Linked DNA regions of Homo sapiens. The protein of the gene in region 1 interacts with the protein of each later gene in a biochemical or structural test. Each region holds a gene or a part of one and is shown on either strand. Other genes may lie near its edges.

What was found. The genes of interacting proteins can lie anywhere in the genome.
Region 2: of the proteins of CAPN2 (region 1) and PBXIP1, one has a biochemical effect on the other in vitro, tested with the Homo sapiens proteins (one study listed by BioGRID).

Annotation. Positions count from the first base shown.
Region 1 is NC_000001.11:223,750,539-223,754,038, reverse strand, and holds part of CAPN2 (calpain-2 catalytic subunit), read right to left. Parts: intron 3,150-3,500; coding exon 3,064-3,149; intron 2,043-3,063; coding exon 1,968-2,042; intron 1,244-1,967; coding exon 1,083-1,243; intron 1-1,082. UniProt on the Homo sapiens protein: Calcium-regulated non-lysosomal thiol-protease which catalyzes limited proteolysis of substrates involved in cytoskeletal remodeling and signal transduction. Proteolytically cleaves MYOC at 'Arg-226'.
Region 2 is NC_000001.11:154,949,600-154,953,099, forward strand, and holds part of PBXIP1 (pre-B-cell leukemia transcription factor-interacting protein 1), read right to left. Parts: intron 2,323-3,500; coding exon 2,196-2,322; intron 1,937-2,195; coding exon 1,872-1,936; intron 1,799-1,871; coding exon 1,633-1,798; intron 1-1,632. UniProt on the Homo sapiens protein: Regulator of pre-B-cell leukemia transcription factors (BPXs) function. Inhibits the binding of PBX1-HOX complex to DNA and blocks the transcriptional activity of E2A-PBX1.

The sequences.
Region 1 (3,500 bases):
TCTTAGAGATGGAGGTGATAAGAAAGTGCCTGCCTCAGAAGTTTGTTGGGAAGGTTAGATAGAATGTTATGCAGGCTGAATATCCCTTATCTGAAATTCCTGGGGCCAGAAGTGTTTCCTATTTTGGATTTTTTTGGATTTTGGAATATTTGTATATACATAACATATCTTAGGGATGGAACTCAAGTCTAATGACAAAACTCATTTCTGTTTCATATATAATTTATACACATAGGCTGAAGGTAATTCTATAGCATATTTAAAATAATTTTGTGCATGAAACAAAGTTTTGACTGTGTTTTGACTGCGACCTGTCACCTGAGGTCAAGTGTCGAATTTTCCACCTGTGGTATCATGTTGGGGCTGAAAAAGTTTTGGATTTTGGAGCATTTCAGATTTCACATTTTCAGATTATGGATCCTCACCCTGTGTACAAAACACTTAGGATAGTTCCAAGCACTGAAGGTGTGCCCCATAATTGGCAGATGTCATCATGTTCAGACAACTGCTGACGGACTAAGCCATGAAGGCAGAAGAATCAAGGGGCTCAACAAAGGCTGGACCAGAGGAGAAATCTTCACCCCATCTGGGCAGCGCCCAGTCAACATTTGCTGATTGAAGTGAGTATGGGGCAACAAACAGGGCCTGATATGTGGAGGGCTCCCTGGGTGCCGGGACAAGGTTCCCTTGTAGGCTCGGCTGCCTGGGTGTGGGGTGCATAGAGCAGCTCATGGCCGTGAAGTGGGATTGAGCACTGCTTCCGTGAGCATGGCGGAAGGTCAGGCTGAAGGTCATGATGGGCGCTGGGGAATCTAGGGCCTGGAGAGGACATCACAGAAACAGTGGCTCTTGGGTTTGTCCTGGGTAGGGCAGGAGGTAAGGGATTGAGAAAGAGAGCTCGGGGAGAAAAGGCTCAGGGAAAAGAAAAGGCTCAGGGAGAAAGAAGACAGAGAGGGTTCCAGTGAGCAGGAGCTGCCTCCTGGGGCTGCTAGGCTGGGGTGTGGTACACAGGGTGGGGTAAGGGGAGCTTTGGCCTTTGGTGGCCCCGCATTGCAACAGCCCTTATATGCAACAGCCCTTACTCGGGTAGTTCCTGCAACCTCCCGCGGTGGAGCCCCGCCTCCAGTTCCCATCCATTTTGGTGAGTTTCCACTTCTTGTAGGTATCGCTGGTGAGAGTGTCTGGGGTCAGGTTACAGATCTCCAGGCGGGAATAGTGCCTCAGGAAGTCACTGAAAGACATCCTGGCAAAAGCAGAGACAATCATCACAGGTGATAAGAAGACACACTGGTAAGCCTTGACTTTCCACCAACACCAGACCAGGAGCCACCCAAAGCCAGGCAGAGCAGCTCATTAGAACTGAGTGGATGGGCACCAGGTTCAGAATCAGAAGGCCCAGATTCCAGTCCTGGCGCTGCAACTTTCTAGCTGGGTGACTTTGAGCAGGTTACTTAAACTTCTCTGAAGCTCAGAACTCTCACCTGCAAAAATGGGAGCCGTGCCCATCAAATGTGACAATATATGGGCCCCATTTGATAAAGAGCATGTTGTGTCCAGGTGCAGGTGGTTATAGAGTGGCGCAGACACACAGACATGTGGGTCCATTGCTGCTCACTAAGGGACCAGTTTCTTAAGGGGCTGGGATGAGTCTCCGGAACCTGGGGGAGAAAGGCCCCATCTTTCCCTTGTTTCCTGGGATCTGAACATTACCAAAGGAATTCCTCTTAGCCTTTTTCTGAAGCTGCTCAGCTTATAAACCCCATTGTCAAGATGGACCGTTGAAGGGGCTTAAGAATTTCTTTATTCAGGCTCTTATAGTGAACTTAAAATAACAAAACCAGGATCCCACACGCTTGTGTCCTCGACATGGTAAACTCACTTTGGCCGACACTCTTTCTAATTAGCAGTTTTCTAGTAAAGAACATTGGGGCAGACAGAGCTTTCCCTGAAGCCTCCACTAATCTTACCAGAATTCTCCATCTTCATGCCGTCTGGTCAGCCTTTCCCTCTCCTCTGGGTCTATAGTGTTCCAGCTTGGGCAGCTGGAAAACAAAGTAAAGAGAGAGGCGTTAGTGTACGATGATTTCTCCCCAAAGGCCCCAGAGTTGAGGAAGAGGGACATCTGCTCTCACCTCTGAGGGCTCAGGCTCCAGAAAGGGGGAAAGTAGCCCACATCTGGCTAACAGCTGCATTTTAATACTCTTACAGCACTTTAAAGAGTATAGAACACTATACAGATGCAAACCAGGGAGCAAAGTGAGCGGGTGAGTTGTGCTGGAAGACAGTGGCAAGGAAGAGTCCAGAAAATGAACATAGTTCATTAGAGGGAGATGGAGTAGCTCAGAGCAGTTGCCCAATTGAGATGGGCCTGGCAGCTCTTTTAGAGACAACTGAAGATCTGATGAGGAGCCTCCGGCTGAGGCCTGGGAAGCCTCAGCAGGTGTCTCTCTGTCCACGGAGCAGAAGGACCTGGCCCTGTACACAGGGGCAGTGCACAGGGTAAACTAACCACTGCCTGAGCTTTGGCTGGAATTACACACAGGCCTCTGTACTGCCCACCTCTCCAACCTGAGGCAGAGCAAGTAGGCTGAGGTTGCCACAGCAGATGTACAAACAAGTGTTTACCCCAAATAGTTGAGGGTTCAACATGCCTACCAGTAAGCCCTGGAAATCAACAGAGGGATGTTTCTCTGGCCTTTGGTACAAAGTTCACATCCCTGTAATAGAAGTGCCTGGGGGAAGGTGGGGTGTATTTTTTTCCCTGAAAGCCCCATAGAAGGGTGGATTTGAGCTAGGGAAGGGGTGAACCTGGAGGCAGTGGCAGGAATGAACTTCACACGAGCAGCTTGGGGCCTGGAAGAAGGCACTCAGGCTGCTGGAGGAGTGTCCTGGTTAAAAGACCCTTTGAGGGGCCCCTGTCCACGGGTCCCTGTCCACGTGGCCTGGGCTCTCCTGGCTATATTTCTCAGAATAATGCACATGTCTTCTTCTCTCGCCCTCTTCCCAGAGCCTCCCAGCACAATGCACCCCCGCCTGGGGCCCCGAGGCCTGCGCCCTCCTCACTTGTCATTCCACCGCCCTGTCCACTCCACTTCTCCCCAGGGATTTCGGATGCGGATCAGTTTCTGTAGGCTTCCGTTACTTTCAACCTGCAGGATTAGATAAAAGGGAGGAGTAAGAGGTTGAGTTCAAGTCAGGGCTATGAAGGCTTGGGCCTCCAACCCCCTTCCGCATGAGCCAGGAGGTATGGGGCTGAGGACGGTGGGGAGGATTTGGGGGTTGAGTCCATGTATGAGGGAGGATCACAAGAGCTAGAGGGGGCTTGGCACCCAGACCTCTCACTGCTGCCTAGCTTTGGAAAATGAGATTTAAAGCTCCCAGGATCCGGCTCTCGAGGATGGGGCTGTTGGTGCTTCATCTCTGAACTTCAGCTTAACTGACAGGATGCGCTTTTGGTAAAGGAGCTCAGAGAAGCTTTACCATTTGTTGAAAGATCACTG
Region 2 (3,500 bases), about 69 Mb from region 1:
ACCTCCCATACCTGGAACAGTGTTAACTGATCATGGCACCTGGCATGTTCTTTAAATCCTTTTCCACACAGTGCTCCAGGCAGACCACACCAATCAATCACAGGTGATACCATGTATGTTTCATGTACCATGTGGAACAGGTATGCCAGCCCTGGCCCAAACCTTAGCACAAGGGATGTGAACCAAGAACTGGGAAGACGCCCTGACTATAGTGGGAGAGGGGAGGGTCAGGATGTGTGGGTAAATAGGAAACATTCCTTTTGGGGGAGGATGCTAGGACAGACGCCTGGCCTAGGTGGGTTACCCTAGCCCAGCCCCTCCTGCCTGTGCCTCCCAAAGTGTGAGGATTACAGGTGTGAGCCACCACACCCAGCCTATTTTTATTTTTATTTATTTTATTTTATTTTATTTTATTTTATTTATTTTTATTTTTTGAGGCAGAGTCTACCTCTGTAACCCAGGCTGGAGTGCAGTGGCACAATCTTGGCTCACTGCAACCTCCGCCTCCCAGGTTCAAGCGATTCTCCTGCCTCAGCTTCCCAGGTAGCTGGGAAGTAGCTGGGACTACAGGCGTGCACCACCACACCGAGCTAATTTTTGTATTTTTAATAGAGACGGGGTTTCACCATGTTGCCCAGGCTGGTCTCAAACTTCTGACCTCAGGTGATCCACCCACCTTGGCCTCTCAAAGTGCTGGGACTACAGGCGTGAGCCACTGCACCCTGCCGCCTATTTTTATTTCCTTTAGAGACAGGGTCTCCCTCTGTTGCCCAGGCTAGAGTGAAGTGGGATGACCATGGCTCACTGCAGTCTTGAATTCCTGGGCTCAAGCAATCCTCCTACCTCAGCCTCCCAAAGTGCTGGGATTATAGGCACGAGCCACCATGCCTGGCCCAGGTCTGCATCATCTTTGCCTGACCACTGCAGTTGCCTCCTAAATGGCCCCCAGGCCCTCCATCCTGTCACTCAACAGGGACCAATTCCTACACTCCTCTGCCACAAGCCTGGAACAGAGCTCCTTAGCACAAGACAGGTGGTCCCCACTCCTTTGCTGATGCTGCAGCCTTGGCCTAAAACATTCTCTTTTCCCTGCCCTACGTACCAAAAGCCTACTCTGTGCTCAGGGCTCCACTCAAATGTCACCTCTCACTGTCCCAGCCTCTCCCTTGCCCTCAACCAGTCCCCTGACTGAATGGCCTCTCCTTCCTTTGGGAGTACCTTAATTACAGTTCTGTACCACTCTTAGGTCTGATATGCACCTTGGCTCAGTCTGATCTGCCGCTTACATAGGCGGTAACCAACCATCTTCCCTCTGCCCAGGCCCAGGGCCAGCACAAGGAAGGGACTCCAGAAATGAGGGTTGAATTCTGGAAGCAAGAAAAGAGGAGGTCCCCATGGCAGAGAGGAAAGAGTCAACCAGATGTGGGCCCTGCCCCTTACCAGCAGTGTGACCTTGGTCAAGTCATTCAACCTTTCTGGGCCTCAACGTCCCAGGGGTAGTGGTGAGAAAGGAGAGCACCAAGCTGCTCAGCCCTAGGGCCTGGACCACAGCATGTGCTCAGTAGTGATGGCTGATCCCTCTCCCATACCTTCTAGAAGGAGAGTGACAGGAGAGGCAAGGAAGACTCTCACCTGCTTTGGGGGTTGAAGGCAGGCTCTGTGGAGGGCTCTGGCCTTCCAGGTCCTGTGTGTCTGGTCCCAGGCCTGTCACCACGGTGGTCTCCTGCAGGTCTCCCTGGACTACTGTGTCTCCTGGGCCAGGAGGCTCCACACCACAAACATCACCTTCCAGGGTGCCCTAATGCAGATGCAGCAGTGAGCAGCTGCTAGCCCTCCCCGCCTCCCTTCCTTCCCACAGCAAATCTCCTCACCTTGACCTCAGTCTCCTCTGTTAGAATGCTGCCAGACTGAGGGCTTTCAGTCTGGAAGAGCGTCCCTGCGGTAGGAGAAAAGGCGCAGAAAAACCCACTGCCCCAGCTGAATTTCCTTTGCAGCCCTCTGTCCATCCCACGGGCCCCTACCAGGTTGGAAGAGGCAGGAAAAAGCCAGGATGGAATGAGAAAAGGAGTTTGTCAACTGAGATTAATGGAGGAACTAAAACGAACCAGCCTCCCTTTCTCTGAGGAAACTGAGAAACCCCAAAATATGGAGAATAGCTTTGTCCGGTAAGCTATGTCCTAAGCAGGGCCCAGTACCTTCTCCATCCATGGTCCCAGCTAATTCTTTCCCATCTGTCTTGGAGGGGCTGTGAGGGGCCTGCAGGGCTCTCTCAGATTCTGGGTCCATCCTGGATGCCGGGCCCAGTGTCTCCACTGGCAGGCTCTGGGAGGAGAAGTGCAAGGAGAAGGGCTGCACCCAAGAATGGGGCCCCAGCCCACATCCCAGAAACACACACATTCAGTCATGAGCTGGCCCAAAAAGGGGCTCGGGGCAGCACCAAGTGCTCGGCATTCCCCAGCCTCACTCACTGCGAGGAGGAACTTTCAGGGGCCAGGTTTCCGCTACACAGCGCCGCACCACCAGACCAAGGCACTGGTTGCAGTACAAACCTGGTGCCCCGCCTCCAGAAGGTGAGCTAGAGCCTACGTTTCCCTCCCATCAAGATCAGCAGCACTTCCTTCCCCACAGATGAACAACCCAGATATTATAATATTAAGGGTGGGAAGAAGGCAAGAGAACAAAGTCCCCTGGGTGCCCACGGGTCACAGTTATGCCTCCCAGGGTGTCCCTGCAGCTGCCCTCTCAACTGGACAACTACTTACATCTCTCAAGCCTTTCTGGCCTTTCCCGCTGGCCCCTGACACTCCCCCGACACCCGTCTCCCAGCAGCTGCTCACAGAAGCCCAACCCACCCCAACCACAGACAGCCTGTCTCCAGGGCACTCTCAGCCTGGACATCCAGCCCTGGCCACACAGCCTCGGCCTCCTCCCTCTGCCTACTCCCCTTCCATAGGGCCCTGGCCTGCCACCCGCCCCGTGGCTCCAACTATCCCTCTGAGAGTAATGCTTCACCTTAGTTATGTCTTTGCTATTTTCAAAACATTTTTATTCTCATGGTCCCCCCTACAAGGCAAAAATCATGACGCCCGTTTTACAGGAGAGGACAGAGAGGTGAAATGGCATGCCCAAGGTCCCCCAGCTGTCAACAAAGACACCTCAACAGGAGGCCAGGGCTCTGAGAGCCTGGTGCCCGTCTGCTCATACCTGCCTTCCCTCTGCCAGTGAGCCCCAGTCCATTATCTTGCTCCAGCGTCATCCCCAAGGTCAACTCCTTACTCCCAGCTGGGTTCCTCAAGGGCACCTCAAACTCAACATGTTGAAACTGAGCTTCTCTCCTCCTCCCCTCCTGGTGGCTCTAATATACAAAGTCGCTACGTCTTGGAACTCTCAGAGATGCCTTTGACAAATTTTTGCCATCCCTTCTCTAGCCACTCAGTTCCCCATCCTGCCAACCCCCTTCTCCCTCCTCAGTGGGCTTCTGCCCCACCAGCTGCTACCTG